Regions from separate parts of the Homo sapiens genome. Here region 2 is linked to region 1. The links come from fine-mapping of genetic effects on gene expression. Tissue or cell type: whole blood. Region 1 holds a variant in brackets; the other region holds the start of a gene. All regions are shown on one strand. Distances are from middle to middle.

Region 1 (8,000 bases):
TTGACCTCAAGCAATCCGTCTGCCTCGGCCTCCCATAGTGCTGGGATCACAGGCGTGAGCCACCACACCCGGCAAATGATTTCTGTATATTGATCTTGTGTCCTGCAACTTTGCAGAACTCATTTATTGGCTTTAGTGTTTTCTTAATGGATTCTTTAGAATTTTCTACATACAGAATTATGTCACATGCAAATGGAAATGGCTCTTTTTCCTATCTTTTCTTAGAAGTTGCAGCAGAGCAATTAGGCTTCTTTTCTTTTCCTTGCCTAATTGCTCTGGCTGGAACGTCTAGTACCACGTTGATGAGATGTGGCAAAAGTAGGCTATCTTGTCTGCTTCATGATCTTAAAGGGAAGGCTTTCAGTCTTTCACCATCAAGTTATTAACTGTGTTTTCATGTACGGTATGGAACATCATTTTTACTTGAAAGAATGATGAATAGACTAACTATGGCTATTCAGACTTGCATAACTGGCAGAGTGTTTCTCCAAAATGAAGTGCCCTGTCACCTGATGATAAACTGGCAGTTTTCATTGTCAATAATGAAACTCAAGCTTTTAAGCAAAATTTCATTTTTCAAACTTCTATCCACAACCATCAGCAACAGCTTCCCAATACCAAACTTTTCTAATGAGATTTAATTAATGAATTTAATGTTTTGATATATATCAATATATGGAAAAATCTCTATAACCTAGTCAATCAATATTTTCCAAGTGACCAATGTGTGTTACGAAATCATGCACAAGTAAAACAATCATTCCAATTACAAGATAGCATGAATCTTAAAGTACAAAATGTTAATTGAAGCAGTTGCACACTGCAACTAACCTTTTAAGAAACTAATACTCGCCTGGGCGCACTGGCTCACACCTGTAATCCCAACACTTTGGGAGGCCGAAGTGGGTGGATCACTTGAGGTCAGGAGTTCAAGACCAGCCTGGCCAACATGGTGAAACCTCATCTCTACTAAAAATACAAAAATTAGCCAGGTGTGGTGGCACACGTCTGTAGTCCCAGCTACTCGGGAGGCTGAGGCAGGAGAATTGCTTGAACCCAGGAGGCGGAGGTTGCGGTGAGCTGAGATTGTGCCATTGCACTCCAGCCTGGGCAACAGAGCAAGACTCCCATCTCAAAAGAAAAAAGAAACTAACACTCGTTCAGTTTTGGTAAAGTATGAATACCCCTCCCCCTTTCCAACTACATATTTGTGGGTAGCTGAATTTTCTCCATAAACTTCAACCAAAATATCACACTGTAACACACTGAATGCAGCAGATATGAAACTCCAGCTGTATTCTCTTAAACTATGTATTAAAAAGATTTGTAAGGCCGGGCGCGGTGGTTCGCACCTGTAATCCCAGCACTTTGGGAGGCCGAGGCAGGCGGATCACGAGGTCAAGAGATCAAGACTATCCTGGCCAACATAGTGAAACCCTGTCTCTACTACAAGTACAAAAATTAGCTGGGCATGGTGGCGCGCGCCTGTAGTCCCAGCTACTTGGGAGACTGAGGCAGAAGAATTCCTTGAACCCAGGAGGCAGAGGCTGCAGTGAGCTGAGATCGCGCCGCTGCACTCCAGCCTGGTGACAAAGAGAGATTCCATCTCCTCAAAAAAAAAAAAAAAAAAAAAAAAAAAAAAAAAAGATTTGCAAAGAATGCGTCTGTCTTAGTTTGCTTGGGCTGCTATTAACAAAATACCAAAGACTAGTTAATTTATAACAACAGAAATTCCAGCCCGGGCAACATAGTGAGATCCCATCTCCACAAAAAAATTTAAAAATTAGCCAGGCATGGTGACACAGACCTATAGTCCCAGTTATGAAGAAGGTTGAGCAAAACCTTGTCTCTATTTCTTTTTTGTTTGTTTTTTGAGACGGAGTTTTGCTCTTGGCACCCAGGCTGGAGCGCAATGGCACAATCTCAGCTCACTGCAACCTCCACCTCCCAGGTTCAAGTGATTCTCCTGCCTCAGCCTCCCGAGTAGCTGGGATTACAGGTACCCACCACCATGCCCGGGTAATTTTTGTATTTTTAGTAGAGATGGGGTTTCACCATGTTGGCCAGGCTGGTCTCGAACTCCTGACCTCAAGTGATCCACCTGCCTCGGTCTCCCAAAGTGCTGGGATTACAGGCATGAGCCACTGCACCTGGTCCATTAAAACTTTTTATGTTAACATGTAATAGGCTTATTATTGTTAAGTGTTTAAAGGTTAAAAACCTAAATATTTTTAAATCTCTCGGTTTTAATATCAAATATGGTAAATGTTGATCGATATGACCCATATATACAAAAGCTCTTTGAGGTCCTCAAAAAATTTTTAGAATGTAAAGGGGTCCTCAAACCAAAAGGCTGAGAGAAAAACTGCATTAATAAAAAAAAGCTCTAGACAAGCAGGTAGATATCTGGTTTAAAAAAAAAAAAAAAACTGGTCGGGCAAGGTGGCTCACACCTGTAATCCCAGCACTTTCGGAGTCCAAGGTGGGAGAATCACTTGAGGCCAGGCATTCAAGACCAGCCTGGGCAACAAAGTGGGACCCCATCTCTACAAAAGATTAAAAAACTGCCCAGGCATGGTGGTGTGTGCCTGTAGTCCCAGCTACTTGGGGTGTGTGCCTGTAGTCCCAGCTACTTGGGAGGCTGAAGCAGGTAAATTGATGATCCTGGAAGAGGCAGCAGTAAGCTATGATTGTGTCACTGGACTCCAGTCTTGTGTGACAAAGCAAGACCCTGTCTCACAAAAATAAACAGGCCAACCATGCTGGCTCACACCTATAATCCCAGCACTATGGTAAGGTAAGGTGGGGCGGATTGCTTGAACTCAGGAGTTCAAGACCAGCCTAGGCAATATGGCAAAATCCCGTCTCTACAAAAAATACAAAAATTCAGCTACTCGGGAGGTTGAGACAGGAGAATGGCATGAACCCGGGAGGCGGAGCTTGCAGTGAGCCGAGATCACGCCACTGCACTCCAGGCTGGGCGACAGAGCGAGACTCCGTCTCAAAAAAAAAAAAAAAAAATTAGCCGGGCATGGTAGCATGCACCTGTTCCAGCTACTCAGGAGGCTGAGGTGGGAGAATCACATGAGCCCTGGAGGTTGAGGCTGCGGTGAGCCAAGATTGTGCCACTGCACTCCAGCCTGCACGGCAGAGTGAGACCTTATCTCAAAAAAAAAAAAAATTAATTAAAAATAAAAAGCAAACCATGTTTGAAGCACTAATATAACCTACCATTACATTAGAATTTCTAAGAAAACAGATGATCTGATTATCAGGTTTTCATAATTAAACAAACCATAGTAATTTATGATCTACTGCTCTACAAGCACTATTACCTTGTACAGGATGATGCTGAGAACTAACTGTGACTTTTCACCTTCATAAACTAACCCAGTTTTCCAGTCTTTCTAGCTAGCAACTTTGCACTCTCTCTAGCTAGGTTCACTGAACTTCACCATAATCTAGCGATCATATTACTACAACAAAAGGGAAAATTTTCAGAACTGTTCTTGTGAATTCGTGCTGTTACCTAAGAAGTTACCACATTTTTTTTCTTCTTTTAAAAAGAATCTGAGGTCAGGAGTAGTGGCTCATACCTGTAATCCCAACACTTTGGGAGGCCAAGGCAAAAGGATCACTTAAGCACAGGAGTTTGAGACCAGCCTGGGAAACACAGTGAGACCCGATGTCCACAAAAAATTTAAAAACGAGCCAGGCA[T/C]GGTGGTACACACCTGTAGTCACAGCTACTCAGGAGGCTAAGGCAAGAGAATTGCTCGAACCTGGGAGGCTGAGGCTGCAATGAGCTGTGATCACACCTCTGCATTCCTGCCTGGGTGACAAGAGACCCTGCCTCCCAAAAGAAAAAAAAAAAGTTTTTTGATCAATTGCATATTCATTGTAGAAAATTTAAACCACCTGTAATTCTAATACTTACCGTTGTTATTTTGGTATCATTCTTTCTAGGTGTTGTTTTTGTATTTTAAAATACTTTCTACAAAAATGGAATATTATTAAACATACAATTCTATAGCCTATTTAACATATTGTCATATCGTTACTCTTCATCAGCAAAAAAAAAAAAAAAAAATTTTTTTTTTTGAGACGGGGTCTCATATCCTTGATCAATTCTCTTTGATAAATTCCTAACAGTAGGCTGGGCGCAGTGGTTCATGCCTATAATCCCAGCACTTTGGGAGGGTGAAGCGGGCATATCACTTGAGACCAGCCTGGAAAACACAGACCAATCTCTCTTTAAAAATAAATAAATAAATAAATATCCTACCAGTGAACTTATTAAGCAAAATTCTAAGTCTTATCTTCTTTTTGAGATTGAGTCTTGCTCTGTCGTCCAGGCTGGAGTGCACTGGCATGATCTCGGCTCACTGCAACTTCCACCTCCTGGATTCTAGCGATTCTGCTGCCTCAGCTTGCCAAGTAGCTGGGATTACAGGCGTGCACTGCCACACACAGCTAATTTTTGTATTTTTAGTAGAGACGAGGTTTCACTACATTGGCCAGACTGTTCTCAAACTCCTGACCTCAGGTAATCTGCCTGCCTCAGCCTCCCAAAGTGCTGGGATTACAGTAATGAGCCACCACCCCTGGCTGAAAATTCTAAATCTTTTGATATAACCACCACCCCAGAAAGGTTAAACTAATTTCACCCCTAATGCAACCTGGTATGGCAATACCCATGTCCCTGCACCCTCTTTTGGAATACTCATCATAAATAGATTTGAGAGAAAAATTTTTTTAAAAAAGTAAAAAAAAGTAGATTTGCCATTTTTGCCACTTTTGCAAGCCAAAAGAAACAATTATTTTAGGCCTAGCAAACTGGTTTCTTTTTTTTTTTTTTTTTTTTAAAGAGTCAGGGCCTTATTCAGTCACCAAGGCTATAGTGCAGCGGCTCAAGTGATCCTCCCCACCTCAACTGCCTCCTGAGTAGCTGGGACTTCAGGTATGCATGCCACCACACCCAGCCAATTTTTCTTTTTTAAATTTTTTGTAGAGACAGGGTCAGGGTCTCTCTATGGTGCCGTGCTGGTCTTTTTTTTTTTTTTTTTTTGAGATGGAGTCTCACTCTGTCACTCAGGCTAGAGTGCAGTGGTGCAATCTTGGCTCACTGCAACCTCCGCCTCCTGGGTTCAAGTAATTCTCCTGCCTCAGCCTCCTGAGTAGCTTGGATTACAGGTACCCGCCACCATGCCCAGCTGATTTTGTATTTTTAGAAGGGAGGGGGTTTCACCATGTTCACGCTGGTCTCGAACTCCTGACCTCAGGTGATCCAACGCCTTGGCCTCCCAAAGTGCTGGGATTACAATCGTGAGCCACTGTGCCCAGTTTCAGGCTGGTCTTAAACTCTTGGCCTCCACTGATCCTCCTTAGTCTCCCAAATCACTGGGATTACAGGAATTACACCATACCTATCCCCAATCTATTTCTTATTTGCCCACCTCTCTTCATTTTAAATTCCTCCTCCCTAGTCTCATCAATCTAACATGGCCTAGAATACTAATTTAGTAACCTATCCATCTATTTCCATCATTGCCACAAGACCTTACCTATTTTCCAGACAGCAGCCAATACTGTCACTGTAAAATACAAGTGGATCACATCCTTCACCTGTTCAAAAGTTCAGTGGCTTCCCATTGCACTATCTATCCAGTTGCTCAAACTAGAAATCTATCCAATTCATTAGCAAGTCCTGGTATGTTAGCTTTAAAATACATCAAATTCTGCCCACTTCTTTCCATCTCTACACCCATCACTTTGGTCCAAGCCATCATTGTCTCTCTCATGGACTGAAAATCTTTTTCAGGACCCATGTTGCTGTCCCTTTCCTAAATGCAAGGACATTTTTAACCTAAGTGAAAATCTCTTCCCACCAAGCCCAAATTCCTGAACACAAAGATCTAAACTGCCATTACCTACCAGAAGAATTTTGCACACTTATTGAAAACCTATTTTCATGGTGCTAGGAAAAGATTATAGCTGCACAAACACTTTTGTCTCGCTTGTTAAATACTGTTCCACCGGATGATAATATGGAGGTTATGCTTTGGAAACTAATGGAAAAAGACATAATATAAGCTTATAAGCTTCATGAAAAGAAGGGACTATGTACTATTCAGGAGCAGTGCCTACCATAGACAAAATACTCAATACTAATTTTTTTTCCTTTTCCTACCTCTAAGAAGGCAGAATTACATTAGAAAAGCTTAATCCTACTTGCACAATGAATACAATCAAGTTTTTAAAATTAACTGCACTGTATAATCCCATTCGGCTTCTACTGTAACTTCCTGTACACAAATGAAAACAGGTGCAAAACCCAGAAAGATCAAAGGCAAAACAGAGGCTTATGGTTTTACTTAATTCATTTTTTATAAAGTCTAAGAAAAATGAGGGCAAATTTATCTTTGGAGAACTTAAACCAGCTAATAATAACTAAAATAAAATCATGAAGCAACAATACTATACAATAATAGATAGAATTATGTACATTCTTTTTTATTTTTTATTTTTTATTTTTGAGATGGAATCTAACTCTGTCGCCCAGGCTAGAGTGCAGTGGCACAATCTCGGCTCTGCAACCTCCACCTCCCAGGTTCAAGTGATTCTCCTGCCTCAGCCTCCCGAGTAGCTGGGATTACAGGTGCCCGCTACCACACCTGGCTAATTTTTGTATTTTTAGTAGAGACGGGGTTTCACGATGTTAGCCAGGCTGGTCTTGAACTCCTGACCTCAGGTGATCCACCCACCTCAGCCTCCCCAAGTGCTGGCATTACAGGCATGAGCCACTGCACCCAGCCAATTATGTACACTCTTATAGAGAAGATTTAAGAGACTGGCTCCTCAACACCCAAAAAACTAGGAACAAACTCCCCCATGCACATGGCTATGAAGGAACACATATGTCTCCCAAGCCACAGTCGATTAGTCTAGAGGTCTGCAACTGGCCTCTGCTGTACTAATCCCAGTACTTAACCTCTCCTTCCAGAGGTTGGTCCAGGGACAATCAAATGCTCTATACCAAGCCAAAGTGAAAACTGGAACTAAGAGTCATATCTTCTGCTACAGCAGAAACTCTTAAGATATAAAACTTGGGTGTAATAGAGACCAAACTTTTCTGCAATTTACGCATTAATCTGCACTGAGTATGGAAGTAATACCAGAAGAATCAAAGAGAACAGACAGAGTCCTGGCAACATTTCAATCCTGGTTTCAGTTGTTCCTGAGGCTTACCTGCATTCTTGCCTTTAGTGCAATTTTTCTTTTTCTTTCTTTTTTTTCTTTTTTTTTTTAATTGGTAACAGTCTCACCCTGTCACCCAGGCTGGAGTGCAGGGGCATGATCTCAGCTCACCGCAAACCTCCACCAACCGAGTTCAAGCAATTCTCGTGCCTTAGCCTCCCAAGCAGCTGGGATTACAGGTATATGCCACCATGTCCAGCTAATTGTTTTGAATTTTTTAGTAGATATGGGGTTTCACTATGTTGGCCAGGCTGGTCTCCAACTCCTGACCTCAAGTGATCTGCCCACCTCAGCCTCCCAAAGTGCTGGCATTACAGGCGTGAGCCACCATGCCCAGCCTCTTTAGTGCAATTTAAGATACTCATTTTTTCTAGAATTTTATGAGTCAACAAGTTTCTACTTTGGCTTATTCAAACTAGTTTTCTTTTCAAGATTCTTTCTATGTACTATATTTAACTAGCACTCAGCTGTCCACAACTCACCTATCAAAAAAAGAAAAACCACGAATGAAACATAAAAGGTCTCTAACAACTGTTTATGATAAAACAAAAAAGCAAAAAAAAAACAACAACCAAAAACTGAAAAACAAGACATGTAAGGAAACTTCTTTAACCTGATGAAAAGCCTTTACAAAAATCTCACAGCTAATATACTCAATGGTGAAAGGCTGAACATTTTCCTCCTCAATACCAAAAAGACAAAGATGGCCACTCCTGATATTCCTATTCAACATAGCCAAGAATAAT
Region 2 (8,129 bases), 75 kb after region 1:
TGCTGACTGCCCGCCTGGAACTCAGGCTGGCCATGTGAGGCTCCACCCACTTCCCACAGGGTCCTCCCTCCACTGACTACTATGCCTTCTACCACAGATGATCTAAGCCAACTTCCTCTCAGGCCTTGGAGCTGCCACTGTCCTCCCACCCCCAAAGGACCAAGCCCCTCCCCAAGGTCCCCAAGAGATCAAGCTAGCCCCAAGTCCTGACCCTTCCCAGTCTGCTCTGTTGTGCCCAGACTAGTCCTAAGGTATGACACCCAGGCCTCACCTAGGGGGCCCAAAGGGACGCTCCCCTTGAAGGGGCCAACTCCAGTGGATCAGGAAGGGGATACGATCATCTACAGAGAGAAGGAAGAAATAGCATCTGCAGATCCCATGCAATACACAGAACCCATGTCTACATCAAACCCCCCAGTATTTGCTCTCATAGCAGCATGTACTGCCCCTTTGCAGCAGTTATTTTGCAATTTTATATTTCATTGTGTGATTATTCGATTAACATTCATTCCTCTCTCCTCCATGAGAGGGATCACATTTGGGTGTTTTAAAATTTTTTTGTCCCCTTTACGTCTGTTTTTGTTCACAATTATTTACTTAGAACTTAACACCAGGTCTGCGGTACGGCAGGCACTCAGTAAATCTCTGTTGTATGTAAAGTAAAATCAGACAAGTTCCTAGACTTATGTAGCTACAAGAGACTCTCGAAGATGATCTAGTCCAACTCTCTTTTTTTTTTTTTGAGACAGAGTCTTACTCTATTGTCCAGGCTGGAGTGCAATGGTGCGATCTCAGCTCACTGCAACTTCTGCCTCCCGGTTCAAATGATTCTCCTGCCTCAGCCTCCCAACTAGCTGGGATTACAGGTGTGCACCACTACACCTGGTTAATTTTTTTTTTTGTAGTTTTAATAGAGACAGGGTTTCACCATGTTGCCAGGCTGGTCTCAAACTCCTGATCTTGTGATCCGCCTGCCTCGGCCTTCCAAAGTGCTAGGATTACAGGCATGAGCCACCGCACCTGGCCAAGTCCAACTCCCTTATTTTAGGTTGGGAAAAAGGCAGCTGAGGAAGGTGAAGCGACATGCTCAAGGTCAACAGCTAGAGAACCACGGAGCTGAGACTAGTGCACCTGGTGTCTGGATCCCTGCTGTCTTGGAGGCATCATGTGGACCCTGGAAAGCAAGAAAGAGGTAAAAACAGAAACCCCTGCTTCCTGCTCACCTGGTCGCTGGAGTGCTCTTCTAAAACCAGAGCCCCAAGAGGCCCTGGGCAAATGGTGGCCCCACCTCATCCTGGGAAAGAAGGTCAGAGCCTGGGGGGCCTAGGACCGACTTCTGTCCTGCAAGAAGAATAGTACGAATGGATCACTGCCACCACTCCTCCCCTGCACCCCTAACCCCATTCCAGCCAAGGAGGGACCTTCCTCCCAGGAGAGGATCAGCCCTTCCTCAAATGTTGGCCCTGCTGAAGCCCTGGCCTGGTTTTCAGCTCTCGTCCCTCTCCCAAACTCCAGCTTGAGGAATCCCATTTTATCTCCTACCACCTTTTTTTTCTTTTTTCTTTTTTGAGATGGAGTGCCCCTCTGTTGCCCAGGCATGATTGTGGCTCATTGAAGCCTATGCCTCCCGGGCCCAAGCGATTCTCCTGCCTCAGCCTCCCAAGTAGCTGGGATTACAGGCGCCCACCACCACACTGGGCTAATTTTTGTATTTTTAGTAGAGACGGGGTTTACCATGTTGGTTAAGCTGGTCTTGAACTTCTGACCTCAGGTAATCTGCCTGCCTTGGCCTTGCAAAGTGCTGGGATTACAAGTGTGAGCCATCACACCTGGCCTTCCTGCCACGTCTTGCCTCTCCCCTGAAGCTTCACGAACACCTTTCCCTGAGTTCCACCCTGGTAAACTGCTTTATTTAGGTGTCCTTTTTCCTTCTTGGCCACCAGCAAGCTCAGATAGGAGTCCTGTGTTCATTTTCAGTGGCTTTTCTGTGCCTAGATTTTCCAGTAATAATTATCCACCCCACTCTGCCTTTCTTCCGCAGATATCAGATCCTTTTAGCTGAGTTTTAATGGCTTCATCATTTTATGTTCTCTGTGACTTTTATGTAAGCAGCCTTTGAGGCTGACATAAATAATAAATAAATGAATGAACTTCTCACTTGACATCTCCAGATGGACAACCTGCCACTGCTTCAAACTTCTCCCATGTAAAACTGAACTCATCATTCCCCTCCTCTTGTCATTTACCTTGCTGCAAATCTTCCCACCCACGCCTTACATTAGAAACCTGACCTCTCTCTTCAAATCTTTCTTCCCTTGCTCCTTTAGGCAGTGTGAAGAGTCCTAGCAATTCCTCCCCACTGCTTTGCCAGCCAGTTGCTGCCCCGACCAGCATTTATTGGACCCGATCTCCTCACCAGCCTTTCTGCCTTCAGTCTCATCCCATTCTAATCCCTCACCCCAAGCACCAAGCACCTCCCGAAAAGTCCAAGGTTACTTATAGAGTCCAAACACTGGGCTCCCACAAGCTATTTTTCTGAGTTTGTCCCAGCCTGTGCCTTATACCCCAGGCTCACCGGATTCTTGCTCTTGCTGTCCTAAATTTGTTCATACACTCTTCCCAGTTTGGAATGACCTTTTTCCTCTGTTAGAGTCCCAACCAATTTTTTTTTTTTTTTTTTTTTTTTTTTTTTTTTTCCTGAGACAGGGTCTCTCGCTCTGTTGCCCAGGCTGGAGTGCAGTAGTACGATCTCAGCTCACAGCAACCTCTACCTCCTGGGCTCAAGCCATCCTCCTGCTTCAGCCTCCTGAGTAGCTAGGACTAAAGTGGTGTGCCACCACACCTGGCTAATTTTTGGCTTTGGTTTTTGTAGAGACGGGGTTTTCACCATTGTTGCCCAGGGTGGTCTCGAACTCCTGGGCTCAAGTGATCCGCCCGCCTTGCCCTCCCAAAGTGCGGGGACTGCAGGCGCGAGCCACCACTCGGGCCCCAACCAATCTTTTAAGATCCTGCTCAAAAGTCTCCGTCCCTGGGAAGTCTTTTCTGAGGCCTCTGAACTCACTTAAATGGAATGTGCCCCTATTTGGCACCTGGTCTCCTCCACTGAGATCGGGGCTTCTTGGGCAGGGTACGCTTAAGGAGAACTGGCTGCATTGGGCCACCTGCCTTAGCAGGGCCAACCAGCGGAGGAGCTGGCTGGGTGCTGGCCCGTCCCAGGGGCTGCGGAAGGGTTAAGAGAGGGCTCCAGAAGCCTGAGAAAGCCTAGGTTCCGGTTTAACCTCGGATCTAGGGCCACTGAGTCAAGACGGGACTTGCGGGGCCGAGGGCAGTTCTCCGGTGATCACCCAGGTCTCCAGGGCAATGAGAAAAGGAGGGGGCACTGCAGGAAACGTACAGGGGCGGTGTTCCTACAGGTCCAGAGCTCCTCCACCAAACTGGGTCCCAAACAGCTCTCCTACTTTCGGGTGGCCTCGGGAACGCAGGGGGAGACTTGCCAGAACGCCCGCCATTCAGCGCCCAGCTCCGTCCCTCTCGTTCTCGGCCGGGATCTCCCCGCGGCCCTTGCACAGCCTCCTCCCCCGGCCCGCCCTGCCCCCCGCTCAGCGCGGCCTCCCAGCCAGGGCGCAGGGGTTATCAAGCCCGCTAGGCCTTTACCCGCGGCTGCCCAGTTCCGGGAGCCGTCGGCCGCGGCCCAGAGGGGTCGGCTGGGCGGACGCCGGCGTCTCCCGCTAGCTCCCAGAGTCCCCGGCTCCTCGGCGTGGCGCTTCCTGCCCACCTCCGCCCGCCTGCGCGGCCCTGGCACCTGGCAGCGGGCGCGAAAGAGGACGAGCCCAGGCACTCGGGCCTGCGGGGTCCTGGGACGAGGGGGTCAGCGAGAGGGGCCCGGTGCTCCGGAGCAGGCGCAGGGCTGGAACCCCGGCGCCACCCGTCCCGCCATCGTCCCCCCTCCCTGCCTCCATCCCCGCGGGCACTGCCGCTAGTACTGCCCTCTGCAGGTTCCCAAGCGCCAGTGACACCCAGTGACCTCACTAACCACCTCCCAGGCTGGGCTGCTTGTTAGGCCCATTTTACAGATGAAGAAACTGATGCTCAGAAGGGTGAAATGACTTGTGCAGGTTGATTCAGTTAGGAAGTGGATGAGCCAGAACAACATCCCGGGCCTGAGTCTTCCTACCTTACCCCTGGGCCTCCCTGAGGCGCGGTGTCCAGGGGATTCTTCCCTCTGTCCCTCTCCGCCTCCCCAGCCTACCTTCAGGCAGAGACCTGAGCCTAAGGCTTCCTTGGGTTCTGCCTTATGTATCCGGTCCTCTTCAGAGCCCAGACCTATGTGTGTGGCTGCTGGTAACCTTGGTTAAGAAAGAAGGAAGAATGGGGGCTGAAGGACAACTTGCACCCCAACCTGCTCTTCGGGTCTGACACCCATTCATGGCCTAGCCCTGGGGCTTCCCAGTTCCCAAAGCCCCCACCCTTATCCCTACACTTCCACACACTTCCACACCCTGGGCTCACGTAGCCCAGAAGGAGGAGCCACCCACCACCCACAGCCAGGGCACGCCTTCGTATGCAAGCATGAGTGTACGATGTTCACACAACAGAGCTGTGCACTAGGGCACCCACAGAGAGGCTCTCCAGGGCAGGGCTGGGAAGAGGACTTACTGAAAACAATGTGGATGTTTCATTTAGACATTTGTTCATTCGTTGTACTGTGGTATTGGGTAGCACTGAGCACCTCACCCCCACAAGCCAGGTCCAGCACTAGGCCCTGGGCTGCCAACCACAGCAAGGCAGGCACCTCACTTTAATGGAATCAACTACCACATTTACAAATGATGTACTTCAAGGCCGAGGCAGGAGGATCACTTGAGACCAGGAGTTTGAGACCAGCCTGGGTGACATAGTGAGACCCTGTCTCTATTTAAAATGAAAATAGAAAATAAAAATATAAAAAACAGACAAACAAATGATGTACTTCAGTGGCAGAGGCAAGGCATTAGGAGAGTCTGGAAAAGGGAGTGCAGAGGAGGTAACATTTGTACTGGATCTGAAAAAATAAATCAGAGGACCAGCCGCGGTGGCTCACACCTGTAATCTCAGCACTTTGGAAGGCTGGGGGTGAGGGCAGATCTCCTGAGGCCAGGAGTTTGGGACCAGCTCAAACTCGTCACCATGGCCAACATGGTGAAACCCCCGTCTCTACTAAAAATAACAAAAATTGGCCAGGCATGGTGGCTCATGCCTGTAATCCTAGCACTTTGGGAGGCCAAGGCAGGCGGATTGCCTGAGCTCAGAAGTTCACGACCAACCTAGGCAACGTGGTGAAACCTCATCTCTACTAAAAATACAAAAATTAGCCGGGCTGGGTGGTGCATGCCTGCAGTCCCAGCTACACAGGAGGCTTAGGCAGGAGAATCGCTTGAATCCAGGAGGCGGAGGTTGCCGTGAGCCAAGATCACGCCACTGCATTCCAGCCTGGGAGACAGAGCAAGACTCTGTATCAAAAAAAAAAAAAAAATCAACCAGACGTGGTGGCATGGGCCTGTAGTACCAGCTACTCAGAAGGCTGAGGCACAAGAATTGCTTGAACTTGGGAGGTAGAGGTTGCAGTGAGCCGAGATCATGCCACTGCACTCTAGCCTGGGAGATAAAGCAAAACCGTGTCTCAAAAATAAAAACAAAAGCACAAAAAATTAGCTGGGCATGGTGGCACATGCCCATAATCACAGCTACTCAGGAGACTGAAGCAGGAGAATTGCTTGAACCTGGGAGGCGGAGGTTGCAGTGAGCCAAGATTGCACCACTGCACTCCAACCTGGGCAACAGAGAGAGACCCTGTCTCAATAAATAAATAAATCAGAGAAAGGAAAGGCAGGGCATCCCAGCAGCAGGGTGAACAACACATTTGCATTTTAAAAGAGGTTCTTCAAGGGGAGTAGAATAGGATGTGGGAGGGGAAGTATAGGAACCCCATGAATGTAGTCTCATGGGTGACAGTTTGGGCCTGGTAATCTCCTCTAGCTTCATTCCACTTACCTAGCCATGCAAGACAGTCACCTGGCAGCAGTTCCTGGACACAGCTCAGAGCAATCTGTTTTCCTCCCCTGTCACCTTCCCCATGGGTACGACAACCATGTAGGTTTTATTAATAACATATACTTTGACTGGCCTCTTGCAGACAGAAGTACTGTGAGTCATGCCGTGGGCATGTCCTCTGTTGTCTGACCTAGGATGCGGTGCAGTGGCTCACCCTATAATCCCAGCACTTTGGGAGGCCGAGGTGGGTGGATCACCTGAGGTCAGTAGTTCGAGACCAGCCTGACCAACGTGGTGAAACCCCGTCTCTACTAGAAATACAAAAAAATTAGCCAGGCTTGGTGGCAGGCACCTGTAGTCCCAGCTACTCAGGAGGCTGAGGCAGGAGAATCGCTTGAACCCAGGAGGCAGAGGTTGCAGTGAGCCGCGATCATGCCACTACACACTCCAGCCTTGGCTACAGAGTGAGACTCTGTCTAAAAAAAAAAAAAAAAGTTATAGCATGAGGCCGGGGTGTGGTTGCTCACACCTGTAATCCCAGCACTTTGGGAGGCTAAGGCAGAAGGATCACTCGAGCCCAGGAGTTTGAGACCAGCTTGGGCAACATAATAGAACCCTGACTCCACAAAAATAATTTTTAAAAAATTAGCTAGGCATGGTGGCACGCACCTGCGGTCCCAGCTACTCTAGAGTCTGAGATGGGAGGATCGCTTGAGCCCAGGAAGTTGAGGCTGCAGTAAGCCATGGTTGCACCCTGTACTCTAGCATGGGTGACAGAGCGAGACCCTGTCTCAAAAAAAAAGAATTATTGCATGGACAACTGTCTTAGTCAACTCTGGTCTTCAGCACTTTGCATAGGTCTGGACACAGAGAAGGTGACTGTGTTAAAGAAGATGATATCAGATGGGCGTGGTGGCTCACGCCTGTAATCCCAGCACTTTGGGAGGCCAGTGTGGGTGGATTGCCTGAGCTCAGGAGTTCGAGATCATCAGGGCTACATGGTGAAACCCCGCCTCTACTAAAAATACAAAAAAAATTAACCAGGTGTGGTGGCGCACGCCTCTAGTCCCAGCTACTTGGGAGGCTGAGGCAGGAGAATTGCTTGAGCCCCAGAGGCGAAGGTTGCAGTGAGCCGAGATCACGCCACTGCACTCCAGCTTGGGCTACAGAGTGAGACTCCGTCTCAAAAAAGAAAAAAAAAAAGATGATCTGTAAGCCCAGGTACTTAGGTACTTTGGCACTTAGGGAGAGAGGGCCCACTTCAAAACATACTTAGATGGGCAGGGAGCATTTATGCTCCAACTCAGCAGGTTACTGGGACTGGTGGGAGGAACATGGGGTAGGGCACAGTGGCAAGAGTACAGTATCTCGCCGGGAGTGGTGGCTCATGTCTGTAATCCCAGCACTTTGGGAGGCCGAGACGGGTGGATCACGAGGTCCGGAGATTGAGACCATCCTGGCTAACACGGTGAAACCCCGTCTCTACTAAAAATACAAAAAAATTAGCCAGGCGTAGTGGCAGGCACCTCTAGTCCCAGCTACTTGGGAGGCTGAGGCAGGAGAATGTCGTGAACCCAGGAGGCAGAGCTTGCTTGCAGCGAGCCGAGATGGTACCACTGCACTCCAGCCTGGGCGACAGAGAGAGACTCCATCTCAAAAAAAAAAAAAAAGTATTTACTGGATTTTTTTTTTAACAGGGTGTCACTCTATCACCCAGGCTGGGGTGCAGTGGCACAATCATAGCTCACTGTAATCTCAAACTCCTGGGCTCAAGTGATCCTCTCACCTCAGCCTCCCAAGTAACTAGGACTACAAGCATTGCCACCATGCCCAGCTAATTGTTTGTTTGTTTGTTTGTTTGTTTGTTTTTATAGAGAGCTGTAGTGATGGGGCCTCACTGTGTTGCCCAGGCTGGCCTCCCAAAGTCCTGGAATTACAGATGTGAGCTACCATGCCATGCCCTAGTATTTACGTTTTAAAAAGAGAAAGAGGGCCGGGCATGGTGGCTCATGCCTGTAATACTAACACTTTCGGAAGCTGAGCTGAGAGGAACGTTTCAGCCCAGGAGTTGGAGACCAGCCTGGGCAACGTGATGAGAC

Evidence for each region. PIP is the estimated chance that this variant, and not a neighbour inherited with it, causes the effect.
Region 2: NLRX1 starts here. The variant in region 1 is fine-mapped to the expression of NLRX1 in whole blood (TOPMed, PIP 0.98).

The regions. Positions count from the first base shown.
Region 1 is chr11:119,239,603-119,247,602 of GRCh38, reverse strand. The region is part of intron 2 of CBL (Cbl proto-oncogene); the gene reads right to left. Among named protein-coding and RNA genes, the nearest start is that of CBL, 37 kb to the right of the region's middle. The variant T/C (reference allele first, on the strand shown) is at 3,719.
Region 2 is chr11:119,164,568-119,172,696 of GRCh38, reverse strand. It overlaps NLRX1 (NLR family member X1), which reads right to left and starts at 3,972. Exons shown (of 10, transcript NM_001282144.2): 1 at 3,395-3,972; 2 at 1,224-1,341; 3 at 272-341. The coding sequence starts at 1,293. RefSeq lists enhancers at 2,472-3,176, 3,177-3,882 and a silencer at 3,454-4,063.